Regions from separate parts of the Homo sapiens genome. Here all the other regions are reported to be linked to region 3. Evidence: microRNA targets listed by miRTarBase, many of them from high-throughput screens and not tested one by one. Region 3 holds a microRNA gene; each other region holds the end of a gene's coding sequence.

What was found. Region 3 holds the annotated microRNA hsa-miR-6887-5p (UGGGGGGACAGAUGGAGAGGACA, at 1,566-1,588, opposite strand). A microRNA usually pairs through its seed, bases 2 to 8, with sites in the 3' UTR of a target mRNA and lowers its output. Matches are read on the target gene's strand: a 7mer-m8 pairs with bases 2 to 8, a 7mer-A1 pairs with bases 2 to 7 and ends in A, and an 8mer does both.
Region 1: miRTarBase lists NRBP1 as a target of hsa-miR-6887-5p. Seed matches in the 3' UTR shown: 8mer at 3,463-3,470.
Region 2: miRTarBase lists C1D as a target of hsa-miR-6887-5p. Seed matches in the 3' UTR shown: 7mer-m8 at 3,428-3,434.

Annotation. Positions count from the first base shown.
Region 1 is chr2:27,441,352-27,445,351 of GRCh38, reverse strand. NRBP1 (nuclear receptor binding protein 1) reads right to left here. Exons shown (of 18, transcript NM_013392.4): 17 at 3,730-3,785; 18 at 3,093-3,644. The coding sequence ends at 3,540. It overlaps KRTCAP3 (keratinocyte associated protein 3), which reads right to left and starts at 2,971. Exons shown (of 7, transcript NM_173853.4): 1 at 2,912-2,971; 2 at 2,589-2,773; 3 at 2,451-2,510; 4 at 2,072-2,278; 5 at 1,820-1,954; 6 at 1,291-1,403; 7 at 1,055-1,166. The coding sequence starts at 2,939. The coding sequence ends at 1,296. IFT172 (intraflagellar transport 172) reads left to right here. Exons shown (of 48, transcript NM_015662.3): 46 at 1-56; 47 at 247-338; 48 at 831-975. The coding sequence ends at 920. RefSeq lists an enhancer at 2,294-2,836.
Region 2 is chr2:68,039,415-68,043,414 of GRCh38, forward strand. C1D (C1D nuclear receptor corepressor) reads right to left here. Exons shown (of 5, transcript NM_173177.3): 5 at 1,716-3,639. The coding sequence ends at 3,475. Among named protein-coding and RNA genes, the nearest start is that of C1D, 22 kb to the right of the region's middle.
Region 3 is chr19:35,120,145-35,124,292 of GRCh38, reverse strand. It overlaps MIR6887 (microRNA 6887), which reads right to left and starts at 1,593; the gene lies at 1,529-1,593. It overlaps FXYD3 (FXYD domain containing ion transport regulator 3), which reads right to left. Exons shown (of 9, transcript NM_005971.4): 4 at 3,183-3,215; 5 at 3,048-3,071; 6 at 1,454-1,528; 7 at 1,339-1,375; 8 at 985-1,022; 9 at 1-852. The coding sequence ends at 836. RefSeq lists enhancers at 259-1,146, 1,147-2,036.

The DNA.
Region 1 (4,000 bases), not on the chromosome of region 3:
GGCCTCCCTAGTGGCAGCGAGCACTGGTGTTCGAGCCCTGCCCTGCCTTATTACAGGTATAGAAGCCTACAGCACCCCAGATCCTGTGGTGGGTAGAAAGCAGCAGGATCAATAAACTTAATTTTACTAGGATTCAGTAAAGGGTACAAAAGACAGGACTGTGCTTTCTACCCCCCAGGCTGCTCCTCATTTTTCCCTCCTCAATCTCTCTCAAACCCCAGTTCATCATTTTTTCTTCCTCCACAGGATACCCCATTCTGAGGAACAAAATTGAATTTAAGCGGCCAGGGAAGGCTGCTAACAAGGACAACTGGAATAAATTCCTTATGGCCATCAAGGTTAGAGAGGAGGACTTGGAGAATGAAGGCAGAGAGGGCAGCACTAAAAAAAGAAAAAAAAACAAGTCTGGGTGCAGTGGCTCATACCTTTAATCCCAGCACTTTGGGAGGCCAAGGTGGGCGGATCACCTGAGGTCAGGAGTTTGAGACCAGCCTGGCCAACATGGTTAAAACCTCGTCTCTACTAAAAATACAAAAGTTAGCCGGGTCTGGTGGCGTGCACCTGTAATCCCAGCTACTCAGGAGGCTGAGGCAGGAGAATCGCTTAAACCCGAGAGGCAGAGGTTGCAGTGAGCTGAGATTGTGCCACTGCACTCCAGCCTGGGCGACAAAGCAAGACTTTGTCTCAAAACAAACAAAAAACCCACATACACACTAGAAAGATGGGTGGGATTACAGGAAGGCAGATGCAGACCCTGAAGCCTGCGATGGAGCTGATTTTGTATTTCCAGCATTAACAAGTTCCTCTCATGTTCTTCCATTTGCTCACAGACCTCCCACAGCCCAGTGTGCCAGGACGTGCTGAAATTCATCAGTCAGTGGTGTGGAGGGCTCCCCAGCACCAGCTTTTCCTTTCAGTAGTTGGTAGAGCTGAGGAAGAGTTAGGGCCTCTCCCTCATTAAAGTTTTATAAATAATTGAGACCACTGTATTCTTTGATCAAAGTCATTCCCAACACCACACAGTGCCTTTTCCCCAAAAGGAATCATAATCAAGTAGAAGAAAAGAGAAGTTACTTTATTACAATTTGTTATCTCATCCCGAGGTCAGGGCCCCTTGCTTAGTGGGAAAAAAAACCCTTTAGGACTGAGTCTCGGAACAGCACCTGCTGGACAGAGGGGAGAACCAACCCAGGTCAGAGGGGAAAGCAGCATGGCAAGACCTAGACCCAGTTCTAAGAGCACTTCCTTGTCCCCGCTCTTACCCGGGCCACCACCTTCAAGGCCCATTACCTGTCCTAAACCCAACTTCTCTGTGATGCCCGGATTTCTTGATTTTGATCCAGTAGCTGCTCATTTTCCTGCCTTTTACATTTAGGAGATTCAAGCTCTGTCATTTCCTCTAGCTGCAGAAGAAGATAGAGTTAGACACCCTCGCCCTGAATGATAGGTCAGCATCTTTTTTTTGTTTTGTTTTTTGTGACGGAGCCTCACTCTGTTGCCCAGGCTGGAGTGCAGTGGCGTGATCTCGGTTCACTGCAACCTCCGCCTTCCGGGTTCAAGCGATTCTCCTGCCTCAGCCTTCCAAGTAGCTGGGATTACAGGCGCCCACCACCCCACCTAATTTTTTGTATTTTTAGTAGAGACGAGGTTTCACCATGTTGTCCAAGCTGGTCTCAAACTCCTGACCTCAAGTGATCCGCCTGCCTCAGCCTCCCAAAGTGCTGGGATTACAGGTGTGAGCCTCCGCACCCGGCCGGTCAGCATCTTTTCAACACAGCCAGTCTCTGTGGAATGAACCCTTCCTGTTTGCCTTCCTTACCTGCCCCTGAAGTCCGTCCTTCCTGCAGGGCCCAACTCCACGTAGAGTGAGTGCAGCCACACAGCAGTAACCAGATAGAGCAGCCTCCCCTGCAGACATGAGCAAAGAAGGGATCCAGAGAGCCAAGGCTGTATCCTGAAAAGCAAGAAGGATGGGGAGTAGGAGGGAGTAGGGCAAGTGCAGCAAATAGGGGAAATTAAAAGGGCAGGACCAAGGCTTTGTAGACCACAAGAAGGAAGAGAATGTGCTCACATAGATTCTTGTGGGGTCAAAGGGGCAGTCAGTATGTCCCGGCCCCTCATCCAGTGGTACCAGAGGATCCAGCAGTCCTGGGTGGCAGTCAGCAATAAGGCGGCGGCCACCGTTGGCCACAGTGAGTGACACAGCAAGAAGGAGGCCCAGGGAGCAGGCAACGGACAAGAGCAGGTTCACCAGAGCTAGTGCCAGCAGGACCCAGTGCTGGCAGGGACAGGAGATCAGGGTGAGCAGCCTGGGCCTGGCTAACTCTCCCAGTGACTAGACACCCAGTTTCTCTGAGGCTCCTCCAATCTATTGAAAGACCAAGCTCAGTCAGCCCCCATTTCCCTGACTCAAGCCTACTCGTTAAAAGCTCCAGGGAAGTCCCTCTCACCAGTGGAGGGCGAAGAAGGTTCCTGGACGCCAGGAGGGCCACAAGTCCCACGGAAACGCTCTGTGGAAGACACAAAGCCTTTGGCCTGCTGGGCTCTCCGGGAGCCCGGCCCCCGCCCGGGTCGCCTGCCGCGCTCACCAGCAGCCCCGAGCCGACAGAGATGACATTGGCTACGGTGTACTCCGGCGTGACAGCGCCGCGGGGATTGGCCACGTGCCGCAGGACGGTGCCATGCAGCACGGCCCCCAGCAGCAGGTTCACGTGGCCCACCAAGATCAGCGCGAGGCCCACACGCATCAGCCGCCTGGGCCCCCGGGCGGCGTCTGCAAAGCACGGGGGAGGGCAGGGTTGAGTCGGGCGGGGAGGGGAGAGGCGGCTCGCGGCGGGTTAACCGCGGGCAGTAGGACGGGGCAAGGGTAGCCCCAGGGTAAGGAGACGAGACGCCAGGGCCCGGAAGTTACCGAAAGCGCAGAGACTGCAGCGCCTCATCCCGTCCGCCGCGCCAGCCGCAGGGCCGCTGTACCTGGGCCCGGCCCCGCCCCAACCTGGGCCCCGCCTCCGTCCCGGGTCCCCCTCCCACCTGGGCCCCGCCTCCGCCCCGGGCCCGCTCCCCCTGGCGGGAAAGGCGCGAACACACGACGCTTTTAGCAAAAAGTAGACTTTTATTACAGCAGCAACTGAGGCGAATCGAATGGCCCCCCAGGGCCACCACTGCAGCACCACCTTTCTCTCCCGCCCCGGCCGCCCCAGCGGGATTGTAGAATTCGGCTCCCCTAGTGCCCGTGGGCCTCCTTTCCACACAGGCTGGGCGGGAGCCGGCAGATCAGCGACTAGCCCCCAACTAGAAGGCGGCTGCTGAGAAGGCCCAGGCCCACGTCTGTGCAAAACAAGTAAACAAAGTGCAGAGGGGAGGAAGAGAGGGGAGGGGAAAGGATGATGCTCAGAACCAGGGAGCCCCCCCAGCCCTCCTGAATAATAAAGGAGGGAAGGGGCTTCACAGGGTAATACTGACTGGGGGGAAGGGACAGGAGGGCTGCAGCACGTCCAGGGACAGCCACAGCGCAGATCAGGGCCTGGCCCGAGTGAGCTCTAAGAGGAGACGGTGACAGCGGCTGAGTTGAGGGTACTGTTCCTGGCAAAATTGAACTTGTTCAAGGTCTCTTCTAGCAGAGAAGTCAACCGGCTCTGGTCAGCCTGGGGGAGAAGAGCTCAGTAAGATGGGGGCTGAGAGAAGAGAAGGCATGGGGGCAGCCAGGGCAGATGAAGGCAGAAACCTCACCTCACTAATGAAGCCCAGCTGCACCAGCTCAGCCGCCAACTCGGGGATATTCTCATCTGACAAAGAAACAGGAGGGGGTGAGTACAGTACGGGACTGAGGGACCTGGGGCCCTTCAGACAGCCCCACTAGGGCTAAACTGTCAGTCAGATCCACCCACTGCTTTAGGGTCTAAGATAGTCATTCTATGTGAGTCAATGTGTTACTGCCTTGTCACCTCCCCCACCCCTGAATATGTCCCTAAAAGATAAGGCTCATAGACTCTCCATCCTC
Region 2 (4,000 bases), not on the chromosome of region 3:
TATCACTTTACAAAACTGACATCTTGCATACAGTTATTCTGCTATGATAGATTTGCTAAACTTCAAGGCTAATTGTGGGGAGAGGGAGTAAAAACCAGCATCTCGTTTCAACCTTTTAAGAACAGATGACTAACACAGAGCTGGTGGCTTTAGGTTTCTAGCTGGGCAGGGAGTTGGGAGATATAAAGTTAAAAATTAAACCTCAATTGCCAATAGCTATCACTATAGCTCTCTCTTTTCTGAACACTTTACTAATCTTTCTGGCTGTGTTAAAAATTATGCCATAATCTCAGACTTCTTGAGGGAATAATAAAAAGTTATGCCATAAATAAGCACTTTAAAAAGGCACATCAAGTCAGAGGGTGGCTATTCTAAAGAGTAGTCTATGGCTGTACACCCACTTTGATAGGAAAATGAATATGCAAACCAAAAAACATTCAAATCATTTTCTTGAAAGCCCGCTAACAGGTAATATAATAGCAAATTATTCAAATGAAACAAATCTACAGAATTCCATTATAAAATCCTGTATACTTTCTGCCAACATAGTTGTTAATGACAACTATAAAATGCTAATATATGAACAAAATATGGCTTGTATTTCCAAAACTGGAGAGTTTTAGATCAGAATATAGGGAAAGATAGATGTTTATATTTGTAAATTATGTTCACGTCACATTGATATAAAATACGTTGCTACCAAGATCATTCAGGAAAAGAGCCACTGAATTTATCTGAGCAGGTTTTCTAACTATGCTATGAAGGGAGAAAATGAGACATCAGTGCTTTTTCTTCCCTTTAGATACCAAATTTAGCTATTACATGAGGCTGAGTCACTGTTCACATCTTTCTTAGTTAATGTCACTTTGCAAAGCCAGAATTTCTGGTAACTTATTGAATAAAATTATAATTTAACTGTATGATAAACTGAGTGATTCCTAAAGTATCTTTTTCTCCAGTGACCTACTTAAGAAAAAAGTATTTACATTCAATACGCTGTCCATTTTTGAAGTCTTTCCTACACTTCTGGTCAATTTTAAATACCTTATTTAGAAATAATGCCAATCCATTTCTAATTGCTAAGTAGAAGGATTTTTTAATCTACAGGGTATCTTAAAACTAATCAACCTGACATAACTTCCTAATTCCAGGAATGTAACATAATTCAAGCTTCAATTTTTCACTCAACATATTCTGTTTTACTAAAAGGATTTCCCACCTTACAACTATGAACAAGAAAAAATTTGTACTTAAAATAATATTAAAATGCAAGATCTCATTATTTAGTACAAGATTAATAGACTATAATTCTAATCTTAAAAATATCTATAGATGCAACTTCTCCAACTTGTTAATTCCCAAAGAGATTAATAAAAGATGTAATTAACATCTAAACTTAGAGCAGACTATCATGTGGAACAAACTATTTTAACAAGAACTGCACCATAGTCAAATAGATCAACCACACACATCACCCTTTATGGTTCTGAATAAGGTTAATGAGCACAATTTGTCATAAATTTTCCCATAACTCTGAGAAACTGAATTGAATAAAAAGACTATTTTTTTCTTAACACCTTATAAAGATAGGATAAAGGCCGTAGTTATCGTCTTTGGAACGTTGCACCTAGCACTGTATCTGGCAATATAAATGTCATTAAGTATATTTGTCAAAAGAATAAACAAACAACAAGCAAATAAGCAACCCAATGCACTACAGCCATTCAGCTCCTTATTACGTGCTAAGTATTTAAAATTATACATAATAAAATGGAATATACTCAAACTTTTATTTCTACCTAATAATGAAAGAATTACTCACTTAAAAGTTACACAATTTAACAGAACGTAGAGGTGCACTTTCATAAACCAATAACTTAGCTAAAACCAATAATGATTTTCTGCAATTGTATAACATTTTTCATTTAAGCTGTTTTTCTTTTATGAAATTAGAAAATATACAGAAATCCAAATAAATTTCTTTGCAATAAATAACACAAAGACAGGTACACTACACTTGATCTTAACAGTAACACATTTCTCTCATGAAGAGGTTATTTTTAAAAATAGCTAGAAATTTGGAGACAAAGGCAAAAAAAGGAGTAAAATAACTATAAATGTTCACTAATGTTCTTCCACTTCAAAAACTGACATCAGAGACAGAAAAGACCTTCTGCGTCTATCAGTGACTTCCTCTTCATGTGTCATAGAAAGAGTTCAACATGCTTTACAAAATCCATTACATTTTAAGACCATTTCCAATATCTGCTATCATAAATCAAGAAATCCATTTATTCAAGGTTACTTATGGAGAATTAATCACACAGAAAATTTTAACAACTCCTTTTTCAAAAATTAAAGTACTTTACTATACTTGGCATTCCTACACATAATGATATGGATTCAAACACTGAAAGCATTAAGGGCATATAATTAAAATTCATGGGCTTAGACATTTAAAAAAAGGTTTACTATGTAGTACTCTCTGTAACTAATATTCCAGAAAAATAAACCACAATACAAACACAGTGTAATCTCCTTTGGACTTCTCATCTGCTTAAGTGGCATTAGGTAACTTAAGAAGTTGTTCCAAAACACTTGTATGTACTTGATACAGCCTCAAAAACATGAAATAAAAAAAATCTGAAAAAAAATGAGATGAAAAGAACTGTGGACACCATGCATCAGGAACAAAAACTCAAGAATTTCTCTATTTGTGATGACTTCTAAAACCTATCTTCCTAATTTGGAAGGCAAATTTACTCAAAAGATAAAAATACACAGGTCAGTTATACAACATTTTCAGCCTTTATTGAGAGTACAGTCATCATGCCAAAATTCATCCATCAACATACAACCTTATTTCCCATCTAAAGTTAATGAGAATGTATTTTATTTTAAATGGGACATAGAGGCAACATGCCAAGAATTAAAGTACAACCATAAAGTTTTAGTTTCACACTTTGAATATCAACAAAGCAGTAATTCCTAAAATCATGAAAACATGATAAAGTATCTATACAGAAAAAAATGAACATTTAAGTCATTTCACGCTTTCTTAATATCATATAGTGAAAACAGATGTACCTATAATTTCAGCCTACAGATAGCATACTTCATAAGGTCATTATTCATTTAAAATAGTACAAATGTTTACAAAGAACATTTCACTTAAATTTCACAGCTGCTTATAAAATGGTACTTGCAAGACTGACCTATATAAAGAAATAAGAGTCTCATCAAGAGATGGTAAATTATAAATATATAATATATCACAATGTTAAAATCCTCAGTGCTAATCAATAAAGATAATGATCTTTGGAGAGGAAAGTATTTAGCTTTACATATTTACTGTGAATTTACATATTAATAAGAAACACATTTAAACCTTGCCCTGCCACAGAATTATTTTGCGGGGGGGGGGGGGGGGGGGAAGATGTACTTTTTGAATATGTGTACATCAAAACCAAAAAGTTAACTTTTACTTTTTCCTTTATTGGCAACTTTTGATGCATTTTTCGATTTTGGTTCCCAGAGGGCATTTTTTACAAATCTTGAAGCTGCACCTCTGTCCAGCTTGCCAGCCTTTTTCTTGTCTGTTATTTCCTTGACTCTGTTCATATATACTCTGATTCTTTCCTTAAAGATAAAAAACAAAGGCAATAGATTTACTAAGCTATTCGCCACCACTGAATTTTATTATACTGTACACCTTGGTTAAATTCAACATATATGTATTTATTGCCTATTAAAGTGCATGGTGCTAGGAAATGCAAATGAATAGGATAAATACGCTCCCTGCTTGCCTGGAGTTCATAGTCGGAGGGTGGGGAAAGACAGATGTTAAAAAGTCATTTCAGAAGTCTTCTGTTTCCAAAGAGTTAGAATCACACTAAGACATTACTCCAGAAATAAACATCGAATTGAAAGTTTCTAGGTGGTTATACATTTTTGAAAAACACCATTAACATAAATCTACATATTAACTGTTTTGTATCTA
Region 3 (4,148 bases):
TCTTTTTGGGTTCATGTTTCAGGACATTGGAGGAGATATTTTTGGGTGTTTTGAGTTTTAGGCGTGTTGTGGGGTAGTTCATGAGAACATTTCGCATGCCTTATTAGGTATTGGGGAGTCTCAAGGGACTTTGAGGCTTGTTGGAAGTTCTCACACTATGTGGTCATTGTATGTTATTAAGGGTAGCATAGGGAATTATTTAACGGGCTTGCAGGGACATTTGGGTATTTGGAAAGATCTTGTAATAAAGTGAGGTCTCGGGGTAAGTGAGAGGGTCACAGGGGCTTACTATTATAAACTGTCTGAACACTTCCATCATAGCGGGACGATCCTATGTCCCAGTTTTCCTGGAATGGTCCAGGGTCCACTGGAATGTTCCAGTGTTCCATCTGGTTAGAGCTCTCTTTCATTCCTTTTGGCTACTAGTAAATCCCAAATTGCATATGAGGTTCCCATGGCTGAGGAGGCAGAGGGCGGGCCTGTGCCATGTCCCAAGCCACAAGGGAACAGGCCTGTGGGCTTTTCCCAACAAGCAGGCTCAGTGCCAGCCTCTGTGTCAGCCTCCAGGGCACGCCAACCTTCTCATGGTGCCCCAAGCCCCACCCCAATGCACACATAGGAAGTCTCCAGGCTGCTTGGGCAGAGGCACAATCATTTTAGATTAAAAAAAATTGAACAAAGAGACCCTCTTGCGAGAGGTGAGATGAGGCCCTGCCATGCAAAGGAGTCCCAGCAGAGGAGGAAGAATTCCATCCTGGAGTTCAAGTTTCTGTGCAGAGACAGGACCTGGGGACAGAGAACGGTCCTCCACCCAATTTCAGCTGGTCTGTCCTCATCAGCTTTGGGCTGAGCCTGCGGGAAGTGATGGGGTCCGTTTGTGAGGGTGGATTGAGTTCTTTTCTTTCCAGTGTGCAAACACACACATACACACACACACACACACCACTTCCGTGTTCCCCTGAGCCCCATGCTGCCCCATCTTACCTGGGGTGATGAGAGGTGGAGTCTCCCCTGGATGGTGACTAAGGAGACAAAAGTGGTGAGATTGGTGTCCGCCCCCATTTGCCCTCTCCCTCCGGATAGAGGGTTCTTAGCCTGCCCAGACATGTCTTCCTGGCTGCCTTTCCATTTGGGGGGTTGTGCAATCCCAGGGGCCAAAGCATTTCAGGATTTGGGGCCCCCTGGGGATTACCAGCTAGAAACAATAAACCTGGAAATCTTAGCGGCAGGAACTCTAAAGGGCAGAGCCCCGAGGCCTCTCCTGCTGGGAGAGTTAGCCCTTTCACCCTGAAAAGCGTCCAGTCAGCCTGAGGCGGGCATGCCGGAACAGTATCTTACCCGGACTTCTGGCCAAACTTGCATTTGCATTTTGCACCTGTTGGGGAGAGCTGAGTGGTCAGGGGAGGGGAGCCCCAGCCCCGGCCCGCCTGCTCCCCCGAGCTCCTCCACTCACTCATGACGATGATGATGCCCATGGCGCACAGAACCCCAGCGCAGATGAGCCCGCCAACCTGGAGGCTGTGCCAGTCTAGGAGGAAAGTGGAGGGGACCTCAGTGCCAGCCTGTGTCCTCTCCATCTGTCCCCCCATTCTCTTGACAAATATATATGGAGCACCTAGGATGCACAGGGTGCTGGGGACACCGCCATAAGAAAACAGACAAAATCCCAGGTGCTCACATTCTGGTTCACACACCAGCAAACACGATCTGTCGTGCAGGGTCAGGCAGAGATAAGTGGTTTGAAGAAAAATAAGTGGGGTGGGAGATGGAAAGTCAGAGGGCGGGCTGGGCATAGTGGCTGACACCTATTAGGTTGGAGCAAAAGTGATTGCGTTTTTGGCTAGACATGGTGGCTCACGCCTGATATCCCAGCACTTTGGGAGGCCAAGGTGGGCGGATCACCTGAGGTCAGGAGTTCCAGACCAGCCTGGCCAACATGGTGAAACCCCGTCTTTACTAAAAATACAAAAATTAGCCAGGCATGGTGGTAGGCGCCTGTAATCCCAGCTACTCAGCAGGCTGAGGCTGGAGAATCATTTGAACCCGGGAGGCAGAGGTTGCAGTGAGCCAAGATTGCACCATTGCACTCCAGCCAGTCACACTCTGGGTGAAAGAGCAAAATTCTGCCTCAAAAAAAAAAAATTGCATTTTTGCCATTAAAAGCAGTTGCAAAAACCACAATTACTTTTGAACCAACCTAATATAATCCCAGTGCTTTGGGACTTCAGGAGTTCAGGAGTTCTAGACCAGCTTGAGCAACATAGTGAGAACCCATCTCTACAAAGTATACAAAAATTAGCCAGGCATGGTGGTGTATGCCTGCAGTCCCAGCTATTCAGGAGGCTGAGGCAGGAGGATCGCTTGAGACCAGGAGTTTGAGGCTGCAGTGAGCTATGATTACACCACAGCACTCCAGCTTGGGCAACAGTGTGAGACGCTGTCTCTAAAACAAAAAAAAAGTCAGATGGCAGCTCTTTTAGAGGGAGTTGTCAGGGAAGGCCTCTCAGGGGGCTGCATTTGAGCAGAGGGAAGGGAGGGAGCCATGTGGTTCTGTGGAAGGAAGTGTTCCAGGCAGAGGAACCAGCAGGTGCAGAGGTCTGAGGCTGGCAGTATGTCTGCTGTGTCTGAGAGGCTTGGAGCAGAAGGAATGAGGAGCGTGGAGAGGTGAGGGCAGAGCGGGGAGTAGGGAGCAGGTCATTGGAACCTGGAGGCCAGATGAGGGTTTTGATCCAATAGCTCACCACCTCCAGGAAGTTTTCTCAAGTCAACACTTCTCCCAGCAGTTGATCTGAACCAACCAATGGCTTCTTGCAAACTGTCCTCACCTCCTGCGTGTGTCTATCTTGCTGGAATAGAACCTTCCCAAAGGCCAGGTTGCTGCCTCTAGTTCCTTTAATCCACTGTGTGGCATATTCAGTAACCCCATCCTAGTCCCTTCGTATCTTTGTCCTGTGATGCTCACGTCAGGCCCCAACCCTGTATGGGAACCCTTGGCACCAAGCAGTATGTGGGGTTGTGGGGAGGGGAAAGGGGGCACGGGCTCTCACCATAGTAGAAAGGACTGTTTTTATCTGCAAGGAAAGAAAAAAGATCATGAATCCAGGATTACAGCCAGGATGCAGGCCTTCCCCACCCAGGGGAGAATTTGGGGGTGTGACGGGTGAGAGTCCAGTCTGACTCACCTTCTAGGTCATTGGCGTCCAGGACAGGAAAGCCTAGTGGGAGAAGAGGGGAAGGAGGGGAGATGGTGATGCCGGCCTCAGCCAAGCCTTTGGGCAGGGCCTGGGGAGTTTCAGGGGCCTTGGGAAAGGGTCTCCTGCGGGACAGGGGTCCTGTCACTGAGCAGCCACCTCATCCCCTCATATCCCAACGAGGAAATGTGGACTCGCCCACTCAGCCCCACACCTCCGAGTCACGCCAGCATTCTGCCACCTGAAATGGGTTCTAATCTAGGAGGTTTTTAGCCACTATTTGGTCTCATGTTTCCAGACACGTGGTTAATCCATGCCTCCTGCAGCAGCGGGGGACTTTTCTGGTCAAGACGACAGATGGTTTCAGTTCCCAGATTCCTGTTTCCCCAAGTCCAATCATGCTCAAAGCCCATCCTCCCGCTTCCACCATGTCCACACCCACCTGGTCTGGTGTTTGCACATCATTGAAAATGACTCACTATTATACACTTAAATAGACTTTATTGAAAATGTAATTTTAGATCACTACCCTGCAGGGAATACTGGTCTTGCCCTATGTAATGGACAAAAAGTGTGCCTGTAATCCCAGAGCTTTGGGAGGCTGACGTGGAAGGATCTCTTGAGCCTGGGAGGTCAAGGCTGCAGTGAAAAAGTAAAAAGCGGGCTGGGCACAGTGGCTTAGGCCTGTAATCCCAAAACTTTGGAAGGCCGAGGCAGGAGGATCACTTGAGGTCAGGAGTTCGAGACCAGCCTGGCCAATATGGTGAAACCTTGTCTCTTCTAAAAATACAAAAGTTAGCCAGGCATGGCAGCACACGCCTGTAATGCCAGCTACTTGGGAGGCTGAGGCAGGAGAGTCGCTTGAACCTGGGAGGTGGAGGTTGCAGTGAGCCGAGATCATGCCACTGCACTCCAGCCTGGGCAACAGAGCGAGACTCTGTCTCCGAAAAAAAAAAA